Linked DNA regions of Homo sapiens. The protein of the gene in region 1 interacts with the protein of each later gene in a biochemical or structural test. Each region holds a gene or a part of one and is shown on either strand. Other genes may lie near its edges. The genes, in order: UBA1, UBE2K, UBE2W and UBE2D2.

The links.
Region 2: of the proteins of UBA1 (region 1) and UBE2K, one has a biochemical effect on the other in vitro, tested with the Homo sapiens proteins (9 studies listed by BioGRID, with this or other methods).
Region 3: of the proteins of UBA1 (region 1) and UBE2W, one has a biochemical effect on the other in vitro, tested with the Homo sapiens proteins (5 studies listed by BioGRID, with this or other methods).
Region 4: of the proteins of UBA1 (region 1) and UBE2D2, one has a biochemical effect on the other in vitro, tested with the Homo sapiens proteins (18 studies listed by BioGRID, with this or other methods).

The regions. Positions count from the first base shown.
Region 1 is NC_000023.11:47,203,828-47,210,857, reverse strand, and holds part of UBA1 (ubiquitin-like modifier-activating enzyme 1), read right to left. Parts: intron 6,591-7,030; exon of another isoform or gene 4,997-6,590; intron 4,911-4,996; coding exon 4,745-4,910; intron 4,611-4,744; coding exon 4,414-4,610; intron 1,236-4,413; coding exon 1,171-1,235; intron 931-1,170; coding exon 735-930; intron 17-734; coding exon 1-16. UniProt on the Homo sapiens protein: Catalyzes the first step in ubiquitin conjugation to mark cellular proteins for degradation through the ubiquitin-proteasome system.
Region 2 is NC_000004.12:39,736,133-39,743,162, reverse strand, and holds part of UBE2K (ubiquitin-conjugating enzyme E2 K), read right to left. Parts: intron 5,744-7,030; coding exon 5,650-5,743; intron 1-5,649. UniProt on the Homo sapiens protein: Accepts ubiquitin from the E1 complex and catalyzes its covalent attachment to other proteins. In vitro, in the presence or in the absence of BRCA1-BARD1 E3 ubiquitin-protein ligase complex, catalyzes the synthesis of 'Lys-48'-linked polyubiquitin chains.
Region 3 is NC_000008.11:73,785,689-73,791,862, forward strand, and holds the end of UBE2W (ubiquitin-conjugating enzyme E2 W), read right to left. Parts: 3' UTR 531-6,174; downstream 1-530. UniProt on the Homo sapiens protein: Accepts ubiquitin from the E1 complex and catalyzes its covalent attachment to other proteins.
Region 4 is NC_000005.10:139,599,331-139,606,360, reverse strand, and holds part of UBE2D2 (ubiquitin-conjugating enzyme E2 D2), read right to left. Parts: intron 5,990-7,030; coding exon 5,926-5,989; intron 1-5,925.

The DNA.
Region 1 (7,030 bases):
CTCCTGAGCTTGTGAGCTAAGGGATGGAGAGATTTTTGAGAACAGGACCTGAGAGTGAAGGCCTCTCTGACAATCTTCACGCTTCACCTAGGCCCCAGATGTGCCCCCAATTCACTATCTTGGGTTGGGCACTCGATGCGGACTGGAGCCAATCACAAAATACCTCAACTGTAGGGTCCCACAGGTTGAACCAGAGATCTGGCTGAGAGAACAATTACCAATCACTGGGTAGCCATTTTGTGCTAAACAGCCCATCATTTAACAAACTCTCATGGATTACCAGGCATTGTACTAACTTCATTTTAATAAATACCAGTTAATCCTCCCCAAACCCCCCATGAGATAGATCACTATTATTTCTACTTCACAGACGAGGAAACTGAGGTACAGAGAGAAGTTACGTGATTTGCCTAAGTTCAAGTAGAGTTTGGATTTGAACCCATATTGATTCCTGTGCTCTTAACTCCAGAATTTCTCCCCCATAATCCCTACAGCCCTGACTGGGAATCAGGTATGACGCAGCCCACACCACAGTCAAGGGCAATAGCAACCAAGCCTCTTTGCTCAAAGGAACTAGGGTGAGGAAAAAGCAGGTCAGGATCAATCACTCTTCTCAGATCCCCATGCCTCAGGGCACCTGCCACAGCTGGACTCCACAGTGGGAGGACCCACACTGCAGGCTCCCATTTCAGGGAAACACATTCTGCCAAATGGACCCAACAACTGGGCATTACCTGGTCAGGAGGGAAGTTGTGCAGCAGCTGCCGGATGTTGTTCGAGTACTGGGTGTGCCAGTGGTGGCAGGCCCAGGTCACGCAGTCAGCCCAGGTCTGTGGTCGCTGCAGCACCAGGCTGCGCTGCACAGCCTCCAGCACCTCCAAGGGCTGAGTGCCTGCCAGCCGCAGTGTTCGCTCCACAAACTTGGGGTCTCTATCAGGAATCGAAGAGGACAGAGGATAGGATTACATGTCAGCCTCAAGAGTGGGCTCCAGAGCAATCTTACTTTCTCCATGGAAAACTAGTCCCGACCCCAAACAACATGAGGCCCCAACAGCCACTCATTCATGTGAAAAGTGTGCCTGGTGCCAAGTGTTACTGTCATGAGGAAAGCAGCCGGGATGCCTTGGCTGGTGGACAGGGACAGGGCGAGAGGGCACTCGAGTTACTCACGTGAGGTACTGGTTGACATTTTCTGCTGGCTGCTTGAAGAGGCCTTCAAACTCATCCCGAGCCCACTGCAGACAGAGCAAACAGATTACATGTGGCCACAGTTGACAAAATGGGTTTCCGCAGGCATTATTAGAAGGACCATCAGTGAATAAAGCAAGTACAAGGCGCACAGCTACTCTGGAAGTGGGGAAGCCCTCTAGCCTTCCCCATTCCCCCACCTCAATTGAAAAACCAGGCCAGGCACAGTAGCTCACACCTGTAATCCCAGCACTTTGGGAGGCTAAGGCAGATGGATCACCTGAGGTCAAGGGTTCGAGACCAGCCTGACCAACATGGTGAAACCCCATCTCTACTAAAAATACAAAAAGTAGCTGGGCGTGGTGGCAGATGCCTGTAATCCCAGCTACTCAGGAGGCTGAGGCAGGAAATCTCTTGAACCCGGGAGGCGGAGGTTGCAGTGAGCCGAGATCATGCCATTGCACTCCAGCCTGGGTGACAGAGGAAGACTGTCTCAAAAAAAGAAAAATCAATGAAGTTGATTTGGGCAGTGGTTACAATAGTGCTGTGTATGTGGAAAACTGTTTTGTTTTGTTGTTTGAGACAAAGTCTCACACTGTCACCCGAGCTGGAGTGCAGCGATGCAATCACGGCTCACAGCAGCCTTGACCTCCCAGGTTGAAACGATCCTCCCACCTCAGCCTCCCGAATAGCTGGGACAGCAGGCACATGCCACCACACCCGGCTAATTTTTAAGATTTGTTGTAGAGACAGGGTCTTGCTATGTTGCCTAGGCTGGTCTTGAACTCCTGGGCTCAAACAAACCTCACTCCTTGGCCTCCTGAGTGCTGAGATTATAGGTGTCAGCCGCCATGCCCAGCCTAAAAATGTATTAAGATCTGAGTGCCAGGCGAGGTGGCTCACGCCTGTATTCCCAGCACTTTGGAAGGCTGAGGCAGGAGAATCGCTTGAACCTGGGAGGCGGAGGCTGCAGTGAGCCGAGACTGCGCCACTGCACTCCAACCTGGGCAACATGAGCAAAACTCCACCTCAAAAAAAAAAAAAAAAAAATCTGTGTACCTTATTCTAGATATGTTATGCCTCCATAAAAAATAAAAACTTCAATTAGGTATATCTTACCACAGTTTTTTAAAACACAAAAAACTCAGACCAAACCAACAATGATCCCTATCCAGGCCCTGAGGACTTGGCAGAAAACAAGACAGAGGCCGGACACAGAGGCTTACACATGTAATCCCAGCACTTTTGGAGGCTGAGGCAGGTGGATCACTTGAGCCCAGGAGTTTACAACCAGCCTGGTCAACGTAACGGGCACGCGTGCGTGCGCACACACACACACACACACGTACACACACTTACACGTACACACAGACACTTACACACACACACACACACACGTACAGACACTTCCCAGGAGTTGGAAGGTTGCAGTGAGCTATGATTGTGCCAATACACTTCAGCCTGAATGGCAGAATGAGACCTGTCTCAAAAAATAAAATAGCAAACAAGACAGAACTTCTGGCCTCTGAGAATTCCTAGGACAGTTCGCAGTCATTAGCGAGGTGGTTTGGAGTGTACAGATGTTAGAAATTCAGGTTCAGATTCCAGCTATGCCACGTATTACCTAGTTTTGTGACTTCAGGCACACAGGATAACATCTTTACCTCTGTGCCTTGTCTCTAAAACAGGTGTTACAACAGTGATACCTACCTTCATGGGGTTGCTAGGAAGAAATGAGCAAATACATATATATTTAAAGCTTGGTTAAAACAGTGCCAGGCACACAGTAAATGCCAAGTGGTTCACAATAGTCCTGTGAGGTAGATGCTGTCATTCCCATTTTACAGAACAGGAATCTGCGGCACAGAGAGGTTAAGTTCAAGGTTACACATGACCTAGCAAGACTGTGGTTGGTGCACAAATACAAACATACCCACTCTGGAACTGCAGTGTCAGAAGGGAGAAAGTGACAGATGGAACTGTTTTTTTTTTCCCTTCCCTATTTTGTTCCCACCCTCATACTCCTACTATTCTAAATGGTTTGGCCTCAAACACTGCACTAAGAATTATTCTGACAGCACAATGGTAATCCCTAGGTTCTGTTTCTTGGCCCAGGTGGTGGTCACCTGTGTGTTCACTTTGTAAAACTTCAGCTAGATCAAGCTTGTCTAACCTGTGGCCCATATGCAGCCCAGGATGACTTTGAATGCTGCCCAACACAAATTTGTAAATTTTCTTAAGACATTATGAGATTTATGCACGGATCTTTTTTTCTTTTATTTTTTCAGCTCATCAGCTATCGTTAGTATTAGTATATTTTATGTGTGGCCCGAGACAATTCTTCTTCCAATGTGGCCCAGGGAAGCCAAATGATTGGACACCCCGAGCTAGATAATATATGCACTGTTCTGTAGATAAATGCACCATACACACAGAATCATCCTGACAAACCAGCTGTTAAACTCATTTTGAGTAACAGCTGGGGAAAACCTGAATATGGACCATTAGAGACAAATAAATAACTAGAAGAGATGGTAAGAATGATTGTTAATTTTGCTGAGCATGAAAATGATGTTTCTGTTAGACAGAAGTAGTTCTCAACTGGGAGTGATGTGGCACCCCTGGGGACATCTGGCAATGTCTGGAGACATTTTGAGATGTCATGATGGAGGGAGAGTGCTATTGGCATCTAGTGGGCAGAAGTCAGGAATGCTGAGAAACATCCTACAGTGCACAGGGCATCCCCTCTCCCATGACAAATAAATAACCAGCCCCAAATGTCAGTAGTGCTGAAGCTAAGAAACCCTGTTCTACAGCAACATATCCTCACTTGGCAGAGGCACTGAAATAGTAGGGAGTAAAGGGCTGTGATGTCTGTGACACATTTAAGCACAAAGAAGAAAAATCTACATAAATCTAAGAAGAAAATGTGGCAAAACATTAAGAATTGTTAAATTTAGGTGAGGAATGGTATTTGAGTATTCATCATAATATTCTTAATATTTGTCTATGTGTTGAAAAAAAAATCAAAATAAAAGTGAAAAAAGAATGAGTCATTCTAGAAACCTAGGCTGCCTGGTGGGAAGTGAGGGAGGGAGGTTTGGAGAAAAGGCACATCTTACACTTAGGCATGCAACATCTGAAGGCAAGGCAAGGGCCTGGGGGCGGAGAGGCAGCAGCCTGGCCAGATGCCTGGCCTCTTTCCCTTCTCCCACAGCTTATCACCTGCAGGGTGTGCTCGATGGCATTAGGGAAGTTCTTCAGGGTACAGATGGGGATGGACTTCTCAGGTGGGTCCTGGCTGGAACTGTACGACTCTGTCAGGAAGGGGATCACCACCTGCACATTGCCTTTGGTGCCCAGTGTGCCTGACTCCAGCAGTGGCTTCCGGTAGTAGACACAGCGGCGGTCCATGTACATGCCTGTGGGGAGCACAAAGCGAGAGCTAGGAAAGAAACATCAGGAGAGGACAGAAAGACGGACACCCCTCTTGGTATATACACACCGAAACACACACAACTTTGCCCGTGACCACCTCACCCGCCTCCAAACTCACGGGCATCCACGTTGTCCAGGGCATTGGCCACGCCATCTAGGTTTTGGAAAAAATCGTCATCATAGATGCGCTCCGTGTCAGGACCCACACGGTTCTGGTGGCTTGTCACCCGGATATGTGGATTCATTTGGCGCACAGCTGCAGCAGCCGTGTCAGACTTTAACTTCTAAAGGGTTAAGAAAGTGCAGTTCCAGGGTGGGGATGGGGGAACAAAGCTCACTTATTTGTGCATTCACCCAACAAACATCTTTATTTTTTTTGAGACAGGGTCTCTCTCCATCACACAGGCTGGAATGCAGTGGCATGATCACGGCTCACTGCAGCCTCAACTTCCCAGGCTCCAGCGATCCTCCCACCTCAGCCTCCCGAGTAGCTGGGACCACAGGTGTGTGCCACCATGCGTGGCTAATTTTTGTATTTTTGGTAGAGACAGGGTTTTGTCATGCTGCCCAGGCTGGTCTTGAACTCCTGAGCTCAAAGACCTCGGCCCCACAAAGAGCTGGGATTACAGGCGTGAGCCACCGCACCTGGCCCAAACACCTATAAAGGGCTGTCTGCCTGAGACTGATTTACTTAATGCTGGGGAAGACCCAGGCCCTGAGTTAGGAGGCTAGCAGGAGAGACGGTCTGTGACAATGCCACATGGCCAGGATGATGATGCATGTGGCAGGGGCTCAGCATAAAGGGAAGCTGTGGACAGGAACAGACTGGAGACAATGGGCCAGACATCTGTTCTTTCGTCTAACACCTGCTATTTTTTCAGGTAACAGCACCCAGGATTGATGCAGACTCCCCCAACCACCACCAGGATGCTGGCACACAGACAAGCAGGATCCTTTCAAAGCCCAAATTGGGCCACGTCCCTCCTCTGCTCAGAATCCTCCCCTGGATCCCACCTCCACTTACCGTAAAATGAGTTGGCTCCCTGACCCCTCCCACCTCAGGATCTTTGCGCAGGCTCTTCCACAGCAGAGGGCACTCTAGTCCCTCATATCCTTGAGGTCTTTGCAGAACTCAGGCCTTCCTTAACCATTGTCATCAATACTACAAACCATTCTCCCTGACACCCCGACTTCCCTTGTCTGGTTTTAGTTGTTTCCTTTGAGGAGCACTCATCACCAACATTAACTATATACCTCACGATCGTATTGTGTCTATTGTTTGCTGTCCGTTCCCCTCTCCCTCCAGGAATCTTGTTTTATTCCTTGGTATATCCCCAATACCTAAAACAGTACTAAAACTATCTGGTGAATAAATGAAATAAATGAAAGGGGGAATAAATCCTGGGTAAGCAAAAACGACACTGCTCCTTACAGAAAGCTTCTCAGAGAACCCTGCATAACCAACCCAGTTTCCATATGTGCAGAGAAGTGTAAGCCTAGGAGACTGAAACTACAACCCTTGGAAAGGCCTGCTTCCAAGGTCGGCTCCTTGGCTGGTGTCTGGGAACTTGGAATTCAGGAAGGTTCCCACCGCTCCCTACCTGGTATCAGTGGTTCACTGTGCCTAAACCGTTCATGCAAACAATACAGTTTACGCTGAACACCTTTCCTTCTGGGAGTCTGGAAATTTTGTTATGTGCCAGGAAGGGGGCGCCTACATGACCAGCCCCAAGTAAAAGAGGTGGTGCTGAGTCTAACAAGCTTCCCTGGTTGGCAACATTTCATGTCTTGTTACACCTTGTTGCTGTTATTTCTGTAGTTACTGTTGCTACTGGGGAAATAAAGGCCGCCTTGTTTAACTCCCGCTGGGAGAAGACTCCTAGAAACTTGCACCAGCCTTTTCCCTTTGCTGATTTTGGTCTGTATCCTTTTGCTGTAATAAATTGTAGCCACAAGCACGACTATATGCTGAGTCCTGTAAGTACTCTAGGTGAATTGAGCTTGAGAGTAGTTTTGAGGACCCCAGACACACTGTCCCAACCAGCACTAAAAAGAGGTTAAGGCAAAAAAAAAAAAAAAAAAAAAAAAAAAACAGAAGCTGAGGGAAAGAAAGGCCAAAAAGAAGGGCTTCTGGCAGAGGCAGAAAGATCTCTGACAGAAAGAATGGGAACAAGAAAAAGGAGGGGTGAGGTGTGGTGGCTCACGCCTGTAATACCAACACTTTGGGAGGCTGAAGCAGGCAGATCACCTGAGGTCGGGAATTCGAGACCAGCCTGACCAACATGGAGAAACCCTGTCTCTACTTAAAATGCAAAATCAGCCGGGCGTGGTGGCGCATGCCTGTAGTCCCAGCTACTCAGGAGGCTGAGGCAGGAGAATCGCTTGAACCCAGGAGGCAGAGGTT
Region 2 (7,030 bases), on another chromosome or scaffold:
CCTCACTCCTCCATTGTTATGAATGGATGGATGACTATGAATCTGAGGAAAAAATAAAAGTGGTACTATTTTCTTCAAGCCCTTTTTGTTTCGAATCCTTCTCTTTTTTTTTTTTTCCTGAGACAGGGTCGTTCTGTTGCCCAGGCTGGAGTGCAGAGGCACAATCTTGGCTCACTGCAACCTCCACCTTTCAGGTTCCAGCAAATCTTGTGCCTCAGTCTCCTGAGTAACTGGGTTTACAGGTGCCCACCACAATGCCCAGCTAATTTTTGTATTTTTAGTAGAGATGAGGTTTCACCATGTTGGTCAGGCTGGGCTTGAACTTCTGGCCTCAGGTGATCCGCCTGCCTCAGCCTCCCAAAGTGCTGGGATTACAGGCATAAGCCATTGCGCCTGGCCTCTCTTCTGGCTACTTTTTATTTGAGGCGGATTCTCACTCTGTTGCCCAGACTGGAGTGCAATGGTGCGATCTCGGCTGACTGCAACCTTCACCTCCCAGTTCCAGCAATTCTCCTACCTCAGCCTCCTGGGTAGCTGGGACTACAGGTGCGCGCCACCATGCCTGGCTAATTTTTTAATTTTTTTTTAAGTAGAGACAGGGTCTCAGCATGCTGGCTAAGCTGGTCTCAAACTCCTGACCTCAAATAATCTACCCGCCTCAGCCTCCCAAAGTAATGGGATTACAGGCATGAGCCGTTATGCCTCGTGGCTAGTTCTTTTTAATAGAATCCCATAGTGATTCATGCATGAGTTGAACTAAATGCCTGAATCACAGAACATATAACAATAATGAAATTTAAAGAAAAGTAGTGGAAAGAAAAAAAAAACTGACAGGTAAGAGAAGGGTACCTGAAGAAATTTTGTGACAATAACTGTCTATACCCAGAATTAGAAATGCCAGCTTCAAATATAGTTATAATAAATTTGGCTTCAGCACTACATAGGCTTTTCTTTTTCCTTCCTAAGAATTTTTTTTTTCTGATTAAACTCCAGATTAAACCATCTCTATAACCCATCATACAAAGTTCTTTGTTAATGGCCAAAATAATCTCTTAGGAGCAGTGTGAGGGCCCACAGATATTATATAAATAATGCTGGACTCGAGAGTCTCTAAAATCTTATTTCTATCCCTTATGTTACACGCTCTGACAACTTTCAATATATGACCACTTAGCATTAATCATAGCATTATTTGATCAGGGTAATACAACTAAGGAATCCTTATGATAACTATATTATTCATATTATAATAGTTTTTACTTTAAAACATTAACTTCTTGAAGAATAGCTTTTAATATTAAAAATTAACAATCTTTAAATTTAACTTAACCCAAAGAGGAGATGAGGAAGGAATGAGAATTTTTAAGCTGTCAACAATGATTCCATAAACCTAAAAGAAATTTTAGGAAGAAAAGCTCAAGAACTAAACTGTTCCTTTGTCATTGAATTATTAAGGCAAAAGAAGTGAAGAAAATTGAGTTAAGTAACATCCACAATATGGCATTTTCCCGTGAGTACTCTACTTCACAATCTGATTCTTTAAATACTACAAAAACAGCTGCCTCATTACTTAATAATGGTTATAAATTGCTTAACATTCCACATGTAAACTTTTGCTTTAGCATTTAAGTTTAGATTTTTAAAAACTCAAAAAACTGCAACATCCTTGCAATAAACATTTAACCTATCGTCACATTTAAAAGAAAAAGCATTAAAGTTTATGTCCTTGAATGGTGTTTTCCTTAACAAAATGAACTTCTCTCAATAGTTTTATATAAAATAACAGAATTCAAGTTACTCTACCTCAAATATATAAAAAGCATATTAAATCTAATCTTATCAAAATATTCATTTAGCAGCAGCAGCAGCAGAAATAAGCACTTTTTTTTTTTGAGATGCAGTCTCCCTCTGTCGCCCAGGCTGGAGTGCAGTGGTGCGATCTCAGCTCACTGCAACCTCCGTCTCATGGATTCAAGGGATTCTCCTGCCTCAGCCTCCTGAGTAGCTGGGATTATAGGCGCACGCCACCACACCCAGCTAATTTTTGTATTTTTAGTAGAGATGGAGTTTCACCACGTTGGTCAGGCTGGTCTTGAACTCCTGACCTCGTGATCCACCTGCTTCAGCCTCCCAAAGTGCTGGGATTACAGGCATCAGCCACCCCGCCCAGGCAGATATAAGCACTTTTAAATGACCAAACTTTTGGTCCCATTCTCGGTATCGGGAAAAAGAAAAGAAAAAAAATGACCAAACTTGTTTCTAACCAATAAAGAATATATCTTTTTTTTTTTTTTTTTTTTGAGACGGAGTCTTGCTCTGTTGCCCAGGCTGGAGTGCAATGGCACAATCTCGGCTCACTGCAAGCTCCGCCTCCCGGGTTCACACCATTCTCCTGCCTCAGCCTCCCAAGTAGCTGGGACTACAGGCGCCCACCATCACGCCTGGCTAATTTTTTTGTATTTTTAGTAGAGACGGGGTTTCATCGTGTTAGCCAGGACGGTCTCGATCTCCTGACCTCGTGATCTGCCCGCCTCAGCCTCCCAAAGTGCTGGGATTACAGGTGTGAGCCACCGCACTCGGCCATAAGAATATATCTTAATGTATCTTTTTTTTTTTCTTTTTGGGACAGAGTCTCGCTGTCGCCCAGGCTGGAGTGCAGCAGCGCGATCTGGGCTCACTGAAGGCTCCGCCTCCCGGGGTTCACGCCATTCTCCTGCCTCAGCCTCCCGAGTAGCTGGGACCACAGGCGCCCACCACCTCGCCCGGCTAATTAGTGTATCTTAATATATCTTAATGTATATAAGTATACATTATCCAATTAAAAAAATTAATCTACCTATTAAATATTGCTTCTATCTAATTTAGCTCAGGAAGTGCCTTGTTTATAAAAATCAATGAAAAAATTTAAAACTTTGCTGACAGACCTCTAGAATAATGTCACTGCCCTACTATCTTCCAAAAATACTTCAAAACAACCTAAAAAAAAATTCAAGAATAACTATAAGGTCTGACTTCAAGAAGAAGCTAGTATATTATTATATAAAAACATCTGCTATTAGGACAAGCATCTGATTTTTTAAAGATAACTAAAGGTCTCCTCTACATTTAATGATTGCAAAAAGGACTAAATGAAACAGCATCCATGAAAACTGCCAGACCAAGCCAAGCAGATAGGAAGCACTCGATAAACAGCATAAAAAATTAAATATCTAGAAATGGCTCGTATGAACTATAAAACAAAAAATAAAATTTTATCACTTAAGAATTGGTACAAGGTTGGGCACAATGGCTCATGCCTAGAATCCCAAGACTTTGGGACACCAAGGCAAGAGGATTGTTTTAGGCCAGGGGTTTGAGACCAGCCTCGGTAACTTGGCAAGATGCCATCTCTCCAATAAAGAAAGAAAAAAATGGGCTGGGTGCGGTGCGGTGGCTCACGCCTGTAATCTCAGCACTTTGGGAGGCTGAGGTGGGCAGATCACAAGGTCAGGAGTTCAAGACAAGCCTGGCCAATATGGTGAAACCCCGCCTCTACTAAAAATACAAAAATTAGCCGGGCATGGTGGCGGGCGCCTGTAGTACCAGCTACTCGGGAGGCTGAGGCAGGAGAATTGCTTGAACCCGGGAGGCGGAGGTTGCAGTGAGCCAAGATCGTACCACTGCACTCCAGCGTGAGAGACAGAGCAAGACTCTGTCTCCCAAAAAAAAAAAAAAAAAAAATGAATAAACAGAATTGGTATAATATGCTAAAGACATTCTAGGGTCTTAAAAAATCTGGATTAAAAACAAGAAAATATTCAAGAATATTAGATTTTTAAAAAGTGTTTTGGGTAGCCGGGCACGGTGGCTCACTCCTGTAACCCCAGCACTTTGGGAGGCCGAGGCTGGCAGATCACGAGGTCAGGAGATCGAGACCATTCTGGCTAACACGGTGAAACACCGTCTCTACTAAAAAAATACAAAAAAAATTAGCCGGGCATGGTGGCGGGTGCCCGTAGTCCCAGCTGCTCGGAAGGCTGAGGCAGGAGAATGGCGTGAATCCAGGAGGCGAAGCTTGCAGTGAGCCGAGATCGCGCCACTGCACTCCAGGCTGGGCAACAGAGCGAGACTCCATCTCAAAAAAAAAAAAGTGTTTTGGGTAACTGTTCATTACAGAATTATAGAACCACTCGAAAGTATTTAGCTGGTGGCCGGGATTGGTGGCTCACGCCTGTAATCCTAACACTTTGGGAGGCCAAGACAGGCGGATCACCTAAGGTCAGAAGTTCAAGACCAGCCTGGCCGTTATTGTGAAACCCTGTCTCTACTAAAAATACAAAAATTAGCCGGCATGGTGGTGCGCCTGTAATCCCAGCTACTCAGGAGGCTAAGGCAGGAGAATCACTTGATTCTGGGAGATGGAGGATGCAGTGAGCCAAGATTTCACCACCGCACTCCAGGCTGGGTGACAGAGAGACTCAGTCTCAAAAAACAAACAATCAAAAAATGAACAACAAAAAACACACACAAAGTATTTAACTGGATATGGTGGCATGCACCTGTAGTACTAGCTACTGAGGAAGCTGGAGGATTACCTGAGCCTAGGAATTCAAATTTATAATGAGCTATGACCATGCCACTGCTCTCCAGCTTGGGTAACAGTAAAACTTTGCATATAAAAAAATAGATAAAACAAAACAGACATCACCACCACTTCCAATATTAAGTCAATTCTGATTTACATAAAGTGATTAAAAGCACAGGCTTTGAAGACAAAGGCTATCAGTTGTGCTACTTAGATGGTTGACCTTAAACAAGTTACTTCTCTTAACTTGTTTCTTCATCTATGAAACAGCAATCGTTGTATTTACCTAGTAAGATTTGCTGAAAGGATTAAATGAGAAAATACATGTAAAGACTGTATAATTAGGGTTACCATATATTGTTATATGTTTTCTAATAAACAAATATTTGAATAGTTATTAATGCAAGAGCCTTGGTTATATGCTATATAATCTAAATTTACAGTAATATTAATTAATGAAGACTCACCTAATAAGAAAGTAAAATGCTATAAGGTTTATTTCTGTATCTTACCACCCGATTCCATGGTCTAAAGTAGCTACAGACTTAATTTGTGAACACCAAGTTCAGCAAAGCCACCTCCTTTCTATGGCTTGAAATAATCACTAAAAGCTTTCCTGAATAAAGAAAATAAACATTTGGACTACAGCCTGTATGAAGACATGAGTGAATGAAATGCTGAATGACAGAAAGAAGAACTTTAAAAACAAAAGCAACATTTTACCAATGAGATATTTAAGGCAAGGTCTGTTTTAGATACCATATGAAGGGTAACTGAGTGTCTACAGTCCATATGATTTAGAGGTTTACCATGCCAGATCTTTTATTCTATTAAATTCTAACCTATAATACCTGTAACAAAGCTCTGCTAAAACTGTTTTATGGAAAGAAAAAAATTAGCTAAAATTCAGTAAGAAATACCAGTCTATATTCAGTATCTAAATTTAGTATTTTTTAAATTGCTGTTTATCTAAACCAAATGAAGTTACCCTCCATATAATTTATAGATGTTTAAGATTATTCTGATTAAATGTTTCAGACAAGTTCTAATACGCACAATATTTTGATACAGAAAAAAGTACTTGCCTTCATATGGTGTGTCTGGAGGTCCTGCTATTTCTCCTCTTAATTCTGTAAAATTCTCATCTACAAGATCTACTTTAATTTGATTTTTGCTCGTCTTAAAAATAAACAGAAAATAAATGTTAGTTATGTCAGCAAGAAAAACGCCTAAAGTATTACCTATAAAAAATCTTGAAACCCCCTCTTTCATAAGCTTGATTATCTGCTCTAGTAAAATAAGTCTCGGCTTTTCTAGGACTTAATTATCCAGTTTTAAGAATATTTAAAACAAACTAATAAATTCTAACTTCATTGTTTTAAACGAAATAACACCACTATGAACAACAATACAATGGCTTCTTGACTTTCTAGGAATGTTATTAGGGAAAAATAGTATAAAAGCTATTTTATGTTTGCCAATTCCATGTATATCAGGCCCAAAGCGATAAATCTAATCATCCACAGATGAACACTAAGATATTATATTCTGCACTATACCCCCACGATACATGGGTTCTGCTTAAACAGAAAATTCAGGGTCATTAAAAGCCATTTAGGCCATAAACTCTCACTTGAACTAACCATAACAACTTTAAATGTTTAGTTTAACTGACTGAAATAGTACACTATCCACCAGAATGGTGAAAGCTCTAGCTACCTAACAGATTCTCCTTTCCATGAAAAATTCCAGAGGACTAAATGCCTCAAAAGAAAAGGCCTTCTTCAATTTGTTTTTCTGCTTAGTTTATTAAAACGGCAACTACCTACTTCAAAAAACCAGATTTCTACTTTAAATTTATCTACATTGACTTATTTTGCACTTTAAACTACTCCAAGTACTTTCCTATCTATAGCATTACTGAGTCTCTTAACCTTATGACAGTCCATTCTCAGAGCCATGATAACCTTAAATGATTCAGAAAACCATCCAGTGGGACTCACATTAACATTCGTAAGTGCCTGCCAGCAAATGGGCTCTCCACTTATATTCTCAAACCTATGTTAAAAATACAGTAAATCCTCTCGATTTTTTAAACCAAAATCCCTAAAGAACAGGTTACATCTTCCTTTTTTTGAGACGGAGTCTTGCTCTTGCTGCCCAGGCTGGAGTGCGATGGCACGATCTCGGCTCACTGCAACCTCCACCTCCTGGGTTCAAGTGACTCTCCTGCTTCAGCCTCCTGAGTAGCTGGGATTACAGGCACCCACTACCATGCTCAGCTAATTTTTGTTATTTTTAGTCAAGACGGGGTTTCGCCACGTTGGCCAGGCTTGTCTCGAACTCCTGACCTCGCGATACGCCCGCCTTGGCCTCCCAAAGTGCTGGGATTATAGACGTGAGGCACCGTGCCCGGCCTATATCTTCATTTTTTTTGGTTAGAATTCCATATTGTTACCTGATTGA
Region 3 (6,174 bases), on another chromosome or scaffold:
TCAAGCTATTCTCCTGCCTCAGCCTCCCAAGTAGCCGGGATTACAGGCGCCCACCACCACGCCGTTATTTTATTTTTAGTAGATACGGGGTTTCACCATGTTGGCCAGGCTGGTCTCAAGCTCCTGACGTGATCCACCTGCCCAAAGTACTGGGATTACAGGCGTAAGCCACTGTGCCTGGCCCATCTTTATGCATGACAGTACTTTTCACAGACATGTTTCTTTGATAATCAGAAACTATCTGCACCTCTTAAGGCTTGTCACATTTTATATGATATGCTTTTCTATTTATTATCTCCCTTATTACATATGCCCTTTGAAGATATATACCTCATCTGCCATCCTTCTTGGCATATGAAAGGCACACAATAATTATCTGCTTAATGCTGGTTTTTAAACTCTATGTCAGGTTTACCTTTATGATTTTATGGTTCCTGAGATGTATTTAGTTTAAAACAATTAATTTGTGACAAGCAATTTGCCTCAGAGATAAAGATATGAGAAACACCTATAAAAAAAGCCAAAACCAATGAAGAATGATTAATGATTTATTTAAAAGTAGTTTTCTCAAACTCTCTGGGATAGAAAGAGCAGGGTCCTGTTATACATTTTACTCAGGTGGTGGTTCTGGATATATGTTTCAAAATAGCTAGCACCTAAGTTTCTTTGAGAAAGCTAGGATAAAAATACAAGCATAACCAAGTTAATTCAATACACACTTATTAAATGCCTATGTGCTACAGGTACTGTATACTAGGTACTGTGTGCTACGTGCTGGGGACACAAACACAATTGCAACACTGTCCCTACTGTTAAAAAGTTCAGGATAGATGACTGGTAGGGAGAGAAGAAAGGACAAGGATGATAACCTTTCAGCTACCTTTGAACTAGACCTTTCAGGTAGAAACGCAGATCATGAACATTCTAGGAGGGAAGAACATTAGCAGACGGCAGTGGAAGCTTGCATTGCTACTGCTTATGAAACAAGGTTTGTGGACAGCTGAAGAGCAGCCTAGGGACACCAAGGCCAGGTAGTGAAAGGCCCTAATGGTAAGGAGACTGGAGAGAAGGTAGAAATCTCAGAGACATTTTAAAGTTACACTCAACAGGACTTGAAAAATGCAAGGAGAGGACTACTGAGTATCATTGCTTGATTAAGTTGGATGGGAATGTCATTAAATTATAACAGGATAAAAGAAATATGTTTTCATTGAGGTATGGAAACATAAAATTTTAATGTTGAATTGGCTATCTGCAGGATACAGCCATCTATATTAGGATCTTGTCTAATGACATATATTCACCCACATTAAGTCCCTGAAGGCCAGATACAGACATGAGAAGATATTTCCTACCTTAGTTGATAAACTTTCCTTATTATTTCCATAATCCACTTAACTGTAAAGGGCGTAGGGATTCCCACTTATGTATTTTGCATTATGCAGGCAAACATTAAAAATAAATCTTACAGGCAACTAAAAAAATGGTTGAAAGGGGCTCCCAACAGGACAGATAACCACAGTGGCTTTGAGCTTTGTTGTCCAAGTACACAAAACTCTTAGCTGTCTCACTTGCTTCTTCAATTTAGCTTATGTTTAATTTTGTTACGTGTTATGTTAGTGTGAAAATGAGTAAGAAATATAGGGAGGACATAAACAGAGTCACTTATCCAGGGTAGCTTAAACTAATGGAGAAAAGTCAAATCCTACTATGGAAAGTAGAAATTAAGGATTATAATAAAGGAAAAGGGCATCATCAAAGTACAAAAGATGGTTCATATATTTATCTAACCATCTACTAACATAGTTGTGTAGGACGGCAGGAACAGCTTGAGACATGATCGTTTTTATGGCAGAATGGCTGCCTCAATGAGGACTAAGGTGCTCCTGGGGCAAGCAGATCCCCTGCAGAAAAGCTTAGAATTACCAGCAGAGCATATTTAATTCCTCCTGTCAGGAATAACAGATGCTGAGATAGCCCCTTCTTGTGGTTATTTCTTTCCTCTTCTTGCAGCTTCAAGAGTCACTCATTTAAGTCATTAGTTGATCTGTTTGTATACTCCAGAAAGCATCCAGAAGTTCTTAGAGTATGCCCTTAATTGTACAACTTGAAGTTCAGGAACATCGGACTCACGATAACTCTAAGCAAGTGCCTGGGTCTCCATTTCCATCTTCACTGAAAACACTCAGTCTTTAGTTGGGACTTATTAAAACACTAAAACTAGCTACATATTACATAAAGGTGATGTGTTAAATAGATGGTTTAAGTGACTATCTTCATTCTGTTGCACTCATTTTGGAAATGGACATGTTCCTGTTTCTATAATCCTTTAAAATTCAGTCTTTTGTGAAGAGAAACTACTGTACAAATACTTTTACGTCATAAACCAAAAAGAGGTCTGGTATCTATCCCATTTAGTATTCAAGTCTACAGAAAAAATCCAATAACAACTGCTTTATTATTAAAAGTTATGAAATTCCATAAAGCAAAGTAATCTGCATTCAACTAACAAGTCTGATACATGTATTAAAAAATATATAACATAGATTTGTCTGTTTTAACATTTATATTCTATTTAAAAAGTAGTGACTTTACATATTTTGCAACTTGAGTTTATAAAATATATACATCCACCCTATTCAAATCCTCAAGCATGAGCTTTCATTCCTATTAATAAAATGCACACTCTGTAGTTCTGAATAATAAAAGGAAAATGGCACCAACTAAAACAAACAAATTCATTTTGACCTGAACATGCATTTAGTTTTTGGCTACTAATCAACCCAATAATCCATTTTACCTTGAACCTGACCACCAATTTGCCTTTACATAAACAATCTGTGGTTAACTATGAAAAGATGCATTTTCATGGTATCTGACACAATTTACCAAGTTCCTTATGGTAGATTTCAGGCTTTAAATTGTAAGTTTCAGGCTTCAAAAGAGGCAGGATTATTAAATCTTTCCATACACCAGAAAATCTGACAAGTGATGTCATTTTGAAATCATGCTTTTGCCTTTGAGAAAACAACTTAGAATTGTTGTAGGACCAATGAGAAAACAACTTAGAATCGTTGTAGGACCATCCTTTTCTCAAAACCCAGAGAGTGTATGTGCCAAGGACTAGAACAAGAATTGGATCTCTCCTTTTCCCAGTCAACTCCTCACTCACCATATTAAAACTGGAGTTCTTGAGGTATGTTAAGATAGATCAGCTTCTATTCAGGCATTCCTTCCACATACTCAAAATACCCTCAGATATTTTATTAACAAAAAATTTTTCATAAAAAAATAGTCATTTAATCATTCTAGAGACTCATCACAAAATACAAGTCACAATATTAACATATGAAAATTAAAATTACAATTAACATCTCACCAGGATCAAAGAACCCTAACTTCAACTTTCAGGATAGAGAGCTAAGTTTCAAGTACATGTCTAGATTCTATGTGCCTCTAATGATAATGATGTACATAAACCTGTCTTAAATCGGCAAACAGACGAGGCATGGTGGCTTGCACCTGTAATCCCAGCATTTTGGGAGGCTGAGGCAGGAGGAATGCTTGAGCCCAGGAATTCAAGATCAGCCTGGGCAACATGGTGAGACCTCGTGTCTTTAAAAAAAAAAAAAAAAAAAAAAAAAAAAAAAAAAATTCTATCCATCCAGGCATGGTGGCACACACCTGTAGACTCAGCTACCCGGGAGGCAGGAGGATTGCTTGAGCCAAGGTGGTCAAGGCTGCAATGACTGTTCCACTGCACACTCCAGCCTGGGCAACAGAGGAAGACCGTCTCAAAAAACAAAAAACAACCCACACACAATTTATGTTGAGAAAGCAAGTCTCCCACAAATTATTTTTAAAAAATGATTCCAGGCTGGGTGTGGTGGGTCATGCCTGTAATCGCAGCACTTTGGGAGGCTGAGGTGGGCAGATCACTTGAAGTCAGGAGTTCAACACCAGCCTGGCCAACACGGTGAAACCTTGTCTCTACTAAAAATTAGTCAGGTGTGGCAGCACATGCCTGTAATCCCAGCTACTCAAGAGGCTGAGGCAGGAGAATCGCTTAGACCCAGGAGGTGGAGATTGAAATGAGCCAAGATCGTGCACTGCACTAAAGCCCGGGTGACAGAGCAAGACTCCGTCTCAAAAATAAATAAATAAATAAATAATAAAAATAATCATTCCACATCTCAAAATGACTTAGAAATTTAAATGGAAAAAATAAATAATTTGCTTGGACAATAATTTGGCTTTGGGAGAGTCCTCATCCGAAAATAACAAAATTTCCTTAATATTAGTACTAAAGAACTAATTACAGCTAACAGCTCATTTACCAAGTAGTCAATTATTCAACAAATTTAGCCATCTACTGACAAACTGAAATTAGTATCAGAAACTCCATGTATTTTATTTGTAGGAGAGCATTTTAAATTTTTCAAAAATTCATGGCATAATTTTAATAATCGTCCTTCTGTAGAATCCCTAACCTCAGAAAAAAAAAAGAGAGAATAAATTAGAAGTGAGAAAAGGAAACTGCGGAAGACTGACACATTGGACATCAGTGGGAAGAGGCAGAAAAATAGGAAGAAAAATAAAGGACAGATTTAAAACAATTTAAAAAGGACTACAAAGAGGATTGGGGCCAGTTGGTGCAGATTAAAAGACACCTTCTTCACAGACCTCAATCATGCACAGGCAGTAACGGCATTACTATAACACAGAACAGTATAGTAGCTGATTCTGATAATGAATCCTCAGAAAAGAAGAATATGGTTAAGCTTCAGTTCTTTTTGAAAAGCAATTTACATACACAATTACAAATAATTGTAAATTTTAAGCATTCAGCTAAGATATGTACAAAAAAATTAATGAAAGTGAGATCAAGAAATATAAGCAGCAGTAACCATAAAGGCTTAGAACTAGTGACACTGAATTCTTTATTTAAAAAAATTTTTGTAACACACAGTACCTCCTCTTCTCTTCTATTTTTAGGAAGAAGTTATAACAAGTTTTAAATATCTCAATTCTGAAAAACAATAGGCTTTTAAAAAATAAGACTTGATTACCAGAAACAAGTAATATGTAGTTACATAACCATTTTCATATCACTACTCATTTCCATTATTTACCAATTCATCTTTGATGCAACTTGGAAACAATTAAGCAGTCACTAGACACCTGTTTTAGAATCTGAAGAAATTATTATCCACCACAGGAATCTAATGATATATATATTTGCATATATTTAAAATTTCATGAGGGAAAAGGTAATAAACTATTCTAGTTATTTTATACCAAATATTGATATTCCTAGTCAAAACAACAAGGAATTAAGATCTTTCTCCAGGTGAACTGCTGACTATATAGAAGCTATTTCCAGCACTTTCTTCTGGGGATTAAAAATGATTTATTTCCCTGCTGGCTAAAATGATAAATTATATATTACAAGTAAGTCCTTCAGAAGTGAATATTAATTCCTTAAGAGAACCATAAAATGTATTTTTAAAAAATTCTCTTAAAAACTGAAAACAATCCTTCTCTCTAAACCTATGGCATTAATCCCTACTTGACCAAAGAAAAAAAAAAAAAAGAAGGGCATCATGTTCATGATCTAAGCATGCATAAATAAGGAAGCAAATGTATCACTGTCTTAATAGAATTTGGCAAACCAGAAGAATGGCCTAAAAATAAATAAATAAATAAATAAAAGAAGAAGAGTGTACCTTATCTTCTAAGTATGAAAGTCTAATTCTGTAGGCCTATGTCGCAAATAGTGCCCCACGAGGAAATGCAGGGAGGAGGCAAGTAGCATATTCCTATATACATTTTCTTGATATTCTGGTTGTCTTTCAACAATGCATTACAGAGAAATATTCTTTTTATTATTACAAGCCATTAATTGCTCTCTGTAGAGCAATGACTCAGATAAATGCCTTATGACTTTTAATAATGTAACTAACATATAAATTAAATCTAAGTGCAAGGAGTTTTCAATGATTCCTAAATTCAAGAGAGTGTTGTTAGCCTGATTATGAATTTTAAATGTCTGTGCTCCTATATTTTAGGATATTTCATCTTATTTTCTACTCTTTAAACCATAAGATGTACCGAAATTATTTCATTTTCCTCTACTTTCCTCTGTGTCATTTTAGTTTACTTTATGGTATTTAT
Region 4 (7,030 bases), on another chromosome or scaffold:
TGAAACCCAGTCTCTACTAAAAATACAAAAAATTAGTCGGTCGTGGTGGTGCATGCCTGTAATCCCAGCTACTTGGGAGGCGGAGACAGGAGAATTGCTTGAACCTGGGACGCAGAGGTTTCAGTGAGCCGAGATTGCGCCACTGCACTCCAGCCCGGGCAACAGAGTGAGACTCCATCTCAAAAAAACAAACAAACAAACAAAACAGCAGGGGACAGTGAGAATATTTGATAGTATGAGACTGAATCCCCAGAGACCTACACTTGAATGCACAGATCTCAAGAGAGTCACATTTACCAACTGTTCAAAAGAAAAGAAAGCTGGGTGCGGTAGCTCGCAGCTGCAATCACAGGGCTTTGGGAGGCAGAGGCAGGAGGATCACTTGAGCCCAGGATTTCAAGACCAGCGTAGGAAACATGGTGAGACCCTATTGCTACAATTTTTTTTTTTAAATTAGCCAGGGGTGTAGGGGCATGTACCCATAGTCCCAGCTACTCAGGAGGCTGAGGTGGGAGGATCCCTTGAGCCCAGGAGTTTGAGGCTTCAGTGAGCTGCAATCGCGCCACTGCACTCTAGCCTGGGCAACAGAGTGAGCCCCTGCCTTTAAAGAAGACCAGAGGAGAGGAAGACGAGGGAGAAGGGAGGGAGAGAGGGAGGGGAGGAGGAGGGGGAAAGGAAGGGAGGGAAGAGAGAAGGAAACAGATATATGGCCATTAAATCTTCAGCTTATTTGTTTCTTTCTTTTCTTTTTTTTTTTTTTTTTTTTTTTGAGACAGAGTCTTGCTCTGTCACACAGGCTGGAGTGCAGTGGCGTGATCTTGGCTCACTGCAAGCTCCACCTCCCGGGTTCACGCCATTCTCCTGCCTCAGCCTCCTGAATAGCTGGGACTACAGGCACCTGCCACCAAGCCCGGCTAATTTTTTGTATTTTTAGTAGAGACGGGGTTTCACCATGTTAGCCAGGATGGTCTCAATCTCCTGACCTCGTGATCCGCCCGCCTCGGCCTCCCAAAGTGTTGGGATTACAGGCGTGAGCCACCGGGCCCGGCTGCTTACTTCTTTCAGGATGTACATTTCTTCCTGCTTACCAGATCTTTGCAGGAAAGTGAAAAAAAATTTACTAGTACATTAAAATCTGGATGTTTTAAAATAAAGCACAGATCTCTACTTTATTTTTATACTAAATATCAACATTAAAATCTGGATGTTTTAAAATAAAGCACAAGTCTCCACTTTATTTTTACACTAAATATCAATAACATGTGGTACTGAGGGATTTGGGTACCAGGATAGTCAAAAGGAGCTCAAAAGTTTCAAAAGGCCAACAGTTTCTCTCTTCCTTCTTCTAAGATTAAATTCTGACTCCTTATAACAAAAATAAAATGACAAAAGGACATTTAGCTATCCAATCATACTTGATGTACTCTTATGTGGGGTTCATCAGAAAGATCTGATCAATACTTGTTTTTTTTTTTTTTTTAGAGACTGGGTCTCAACCTGTCATCCAAGCTAGAGTATAGTGGCCAAATCATAGCTCACTGCAGCCTCAAACTTCTGGGCTCAGGTGTTCCTCCTGCCTCAGCCTTGTGAGTAGGTGGGACTACAGCCATGAGCCACCACTCCCAGCTAATTTTTAGTTTTAAAGATGGGGTCTTGCTTTGTTGCCCAGGCTGGCATAAAACTCCTGGCCTCAAGTGATCCTCCAGTCTCAGTCTCCCCAGTAGCTGGGATTACAGGCATGAGCCACTGTGCCTGGCTCTTCTTCACTGTAGTTTTGATTTGTATTTCCCTAATGACAAATGATGTTGAGCATCTTTTCGTGTGCTTACTAGCCATCTTATCTGGAGAAATGTCTACTCGGATCCTTTGACTATTTTTTAATTGGTTATTTATTTTTATACTGAGTTATAGGAGTTTTTAAACAGCTGGGTGGGGTGGCTCATGCCTGTAATTCCAGCGCTTTGGGAGGTAGAGGTGGGCGGATCACTTGAGGTCAGGAGTTCAAGACCAGCCTGGCCAACATGGTGAAACCCATCTCTACCAAAAATACGAAAATTAGCTGGGCGGCGGGGCACGTGCCTATAATCAGCTACTCGGGAGGCTGAGGCAGGAGAACTGCTTGAACCCACGAGGCGAAGGTTATAGTGAGCCAAGACCGCACCACTGCACTCCAGCCTGGGTGACAAAAGCGAGATTCCGTCTCAAAAAAAAAAAAAAAAAGTTTTAAAAATATACTGGATATATGTCCCTTATGAGATATATGACTTGCAACAATTTCTTCCATTCTATATGTTTTATCACTTTCGTGATGGCATCATTTGCAGCCTGTATATATTTAATTTTGATGAAGTCTAATAATATCTATTTTTTTCTCTTACTGATTAGCTTTGGGAGAGTTTGTTTGTTTTTTTGAGACGGAGTTTCAGTCTTGTTGCCCAGGCTGGAGTGCAATGGCGTGATCTCGGCTCACTGCAGCCTCTGCCTCCCGGGTTCAAGCGATTCTCCTGCCTCAGCCTCCCAAATAGATGGGATTACAGCTCCCACCACCACACCTGGCTAATTTCTTGTATTTTTATTTTTAGTAGACGGGGTTTCACCAGAGTTCAAGGCCAGACTGGTCTTGATTGAATTCCTGGCCTCAGGTAATCCACCTGCCTCGGCCTCCCAAAGTGCTGGCATTACAGGCGTACAGACGTGAGACACCACACCCAGCCTTTTTTTTTTTTTTTTTTTTTTTCGGAGACAGAGTCTCACTCTGTCACCCAGGCTGGAGTGTAGTGGCGGGATCTCGGCTCACCACAACCTCCGCCTCCCAGTTCCAACGATTCTCCTGCCTCAGCCTCCTAGGTAGCTGGGATTATAGGCAGGCGCCACCGCGCCCAGCTAATTTTTGTATTTTTAGTAGAGACAGGGTTTCACCATGTTGGCCAGGCTGGTCTTGAACTCCTGGCCTCCCAAAGTGCTAGGATTACAGACGTGAACCATCGCACTCGGCTGTGGGAGAGTTTTATTTAACTCTCCAAAGGGAACAATTTTTCAACCTGAGAAAGAAATGTATAGTGCTAACTATGGCAGAAGCAAAGCAAAGACAAATTACTTTAGCATGCTAAAGAAAACTTCAAAATTGAAATCAAATCCCCTGACTCCAACCACTTTTAATTAAAGATTTTCAGCCATTCTTAACTTGGAGGAATTTACCTAAAAGCACTTTTCCAACTGAATAGAAAGAGTACACTGATGTATGTGGCCCATATGATACAGTGGAAGGACAAACTAGAATCAGAAAACCTGAGAGTGAGTTCACATGGAGAATCTCCATGAGATTCTCATGGGACTTTTTTCTAAAACAATTTAAAATTTCTACTCCACTCACCTAAATGAGTTGTTGTAAGGCTTAAATGAGACAACGTGTGTAACAGCACTTACTAAATTATTTTGTATAGTTTAAGTACTTAGCCTGCCTTGTTTGGTACCAAATACTATAGTTACTCACGCTAGGTAAGTCAGAATATAATAATGTAAATGAGTTTTTTCATGACATGTACTTAGACTCATAATTTATAATATTTATCTATTTGTAAAGTAATCCTTGTGAAAGGGCCTTGCTTTGATTCTTCAGGATTTAGCAGACCAGACACATTCTTTTTTTCCGTTTTTTGTTGTTGTTGTTGTTGTTTTTGTTTTGAGAGAGTCTCGCTCCCGTTGCCCAGGCTGGAGTGCAGTTGTGCAACCTTGGCTCACTACAGCCTCAACTGCCTGGACTCAAGCGATCCTCCCACCTTAAACTCCTGAGTAGCTGGGGCTACAGGCATGCACCACCAGGCCAGGCTAATTTTTGTATTTTTTTGTAGAGAGAGGGTTTCACCATGTTGCCCAGGCTGGTCTCGCACTCCTGGGCTCAAGTGATCTGCCTGCCTCAGCCTCCCAAAGCACTGAGATTACAGGTGTGAGCCACTGGGCTGGGCCCAGACACAACATTATTAAGAAAAATCAGGAAAAAACAATTTGAGGCCAGGCGCAGTAGCTCACGCCTGTAATTCCAGAACTTTGGGAGGCCAAGGCAGGTGGATCACCTAAGGTCAGGAATTCAAGACCAGCCTCGCCAACATGGCGAAACCCCGTCTCTACTAAAAATACAAAAACTAGCCAGGTGTGGTGGCAGGTGCCTGTAATCCAAGCTACTTGGAAGGCTGAGGCAGGAGAATGGCATGAACCCAGGAGGCGGAGCTTGCAGTGAGCCGAGGTCACGCCACTGCACTCCAGCACGGGCAACAGAGTGAGACTCCATCTTAAAAAACAAAACAAACAAACAAAAAAATATTAAACATAAGCTAATTTAACCATGTACTCATTTTGGTCTGAATCTACATATTTACACAAGTGTTTGTAAGTATGCATACTTTAAAATATTTGTTAAATGTTACAAATTTTTTTTTCTTTTTTTTTTTTTTGAGAGTAAGTCTCACTCTGTCACGCAGGCTGGAGTGCAGTGGCACAATCTCAGCTCACTGCAACCTCTGCCTCCTGGATTCAAGCAGTTGTCTGCCTCAACCTCCCAAGTAGGTGGGATTACAGGCGCCTGTCACCATGCCTGGCTAAATTTTTTTCTATTTTTAGTAGAGGCGGGGTTTCACCATCTTGGCCAGGATGGTCTCAAACTCTGACCTCGTGATCCGCCCGCCTCGGCCTTTCAAAGTGCTGGGATTAGAGGCATGAGCCATGACGCCCCGTCCTGTTTTTATTTTTTGAGACAGCGTCTCACTCTGTCGCCCAAGCTGGAGTGCAGTGGCATGGTCCTGGCTCACTGTAAACTCTGCTACCCAGGCTCAGGCTAAAGCAAACCTCCCACCTTAGCCTTCCAAGTAGCTCGGACTACCAGCATGCACCAACATACCCGGCTAATTTTTTTGTGTGTTTTTTGTAGAGACAGGGCTTCACCATGTTGACCAAGCTGGTCTTGAACTCCTGGGCTCAATTGATTCACCTGCCTCGGTCTCCTAAAGTGCTGGGATTAGGGACATGAGCCATCACACCCAACCAAATGTTACAGTTTTTTGTGAATTAGTTTTACATCACATAGCATAGTCTCATTCAAATATCCCCTCTTTAAAAAAAGTTAAAAGACACTATATGGGAAAAAATTATGTTGAAATGAAGTGGAACAAAGAGGAAATTATCATCTAATGTATGCATTAAGATCATCTTTTTAGACAAAATTAAGCAGATAAATTGGACATTAAAAATAAAGACCTGCTTTTGGCCAGGTGTGGTGGTTCATGCCTATAATCCCAGCACTTTGGGAGGCCAAAGCGGGCGGATCACCTGAGGCCAGGAGTTTGAGACCAGCCTGGCCAACATGGCGAAACCACGAATCTACTAAAAATACAAAAATTAATCAGGCGTGGTGGCATGCACCTGTAATCCCAGATACTCGAGAGGCTGAGGCACGAGAATCACTTGAACCCAGGAAGCAGAGGCTGCAGTGAGCTGAGATCACGCCACTGCACTCCAGCCCGGGCTTGACAGAGCGAGACCCTGTCTCAAGAAAAAAATAAATAAAGACCTGATTTCGCAAGTATGAGTCAGTAGAAAGTCAGACACAGACACACATACTATCATCCTTAGTATTATCTTACTCAAGAATAATAGCTAGTTGTAGGTAAAAGCTTAAATATTTCACTCCAGGAAAATACCCAGAAGGGATGAAGGTAAGGTAGGAGAGGACTAGAACAACTACATAGCCAATACCTGGCAGAAGATTCAAAATGTAATGAACAACACAGATGATAATGGGATGAACATAGAGTTGCTCCCTTCATGGGCCACTAAGGGTTAAACACTGCCTCTTCCCTATACCATAATTGTTTCTTCACACAAAATAACCACTGTTATGCTATTACTCCATTATTCCTTTTAAATACTTACTATCATCTCCAACAGGACCTGCTGAACACTGTGCTGGAGGGTCCCGTGCCAGATCATTCAATTCCTACAGAAAAAAGAAAGAAAAGAAATATATTCAACATAAATGTACCTTTTATCCATTACTAAAGTTTATATTGTTACCAATATTCTCTGTCCTGCTGGTGAAACTCTCTTAAGAGCATTCCTTCAGAGTAAGAGATGAGTAGATTGGTGAATCTTTAAGGTATTTTGGATTCTTCAAGGCAATGTGTATTTTTTTAAAGTGGGTCATTTTTGCTTTGTTCAGAGCTTAGCAAATAAATACAATCAGGAAGGTAAAACATGTGTCATGTATTATGGGCCGGGCGTGATGGCTCACACCTGTAATCCCAGCACTTTGGGAGGCTGAGGCGGGCAGATCACTTGAGGTCAGGAGTTCGAGACCAGCCTGGCCAACAAGCCTGTCTCTACTGAAGATAGAAAAAATTAGCTGGGCATGGTGATACATGCCTGTCATACCAGCTACTCAGGAGGCTGAGGCAGGAGAATCCCTTGAACCAGGGAGGCGGAGGTTGCAGTAAGCCAAGATTGCACCACTGCACTCCAGCCTGGGTGATAGAGCGAGACTCCATTTCAAAAAAACAAACAAACAAAAAACATGTATTATGTATTAAAGAGCCAAAAATACTGTTTTTTTTGTTTGTTTGTTGTTTGTTTTTTGAGACGGAGTCTTGCTCTGTCGCCCAGGCTGGAGTGCAGTGGCGCAATCTCAGCTGACTGCAAGCTCCGCCTCCAGGGTTCACGCCATTCTCCTGCCTCAGCCTCCCGAGTAGCTGGGACTACAGGTGCCCGACCCAAACGCCCGGCTAACTTTTTGTATTTTTAGTAGAGACAGGGTTTCACCGTGTTAGCCAGGATGATCTCAATCTCCTGACCTGGTGATCCGCCCACCTTGGCCTCCCAAAGTGCTGGGATTACAGGCGTGAGCCACCGCGCCTGGCCAAAATTGTTTTAATGTAAACATTTCATTTATTATTTTTCAAAAAAAAAATTTAAGGCCAATTTTTGTACCTCAAAACTATTAGGTTACACTTGGGACAAGCTCCTAAAGTCATAAATGTTCCAA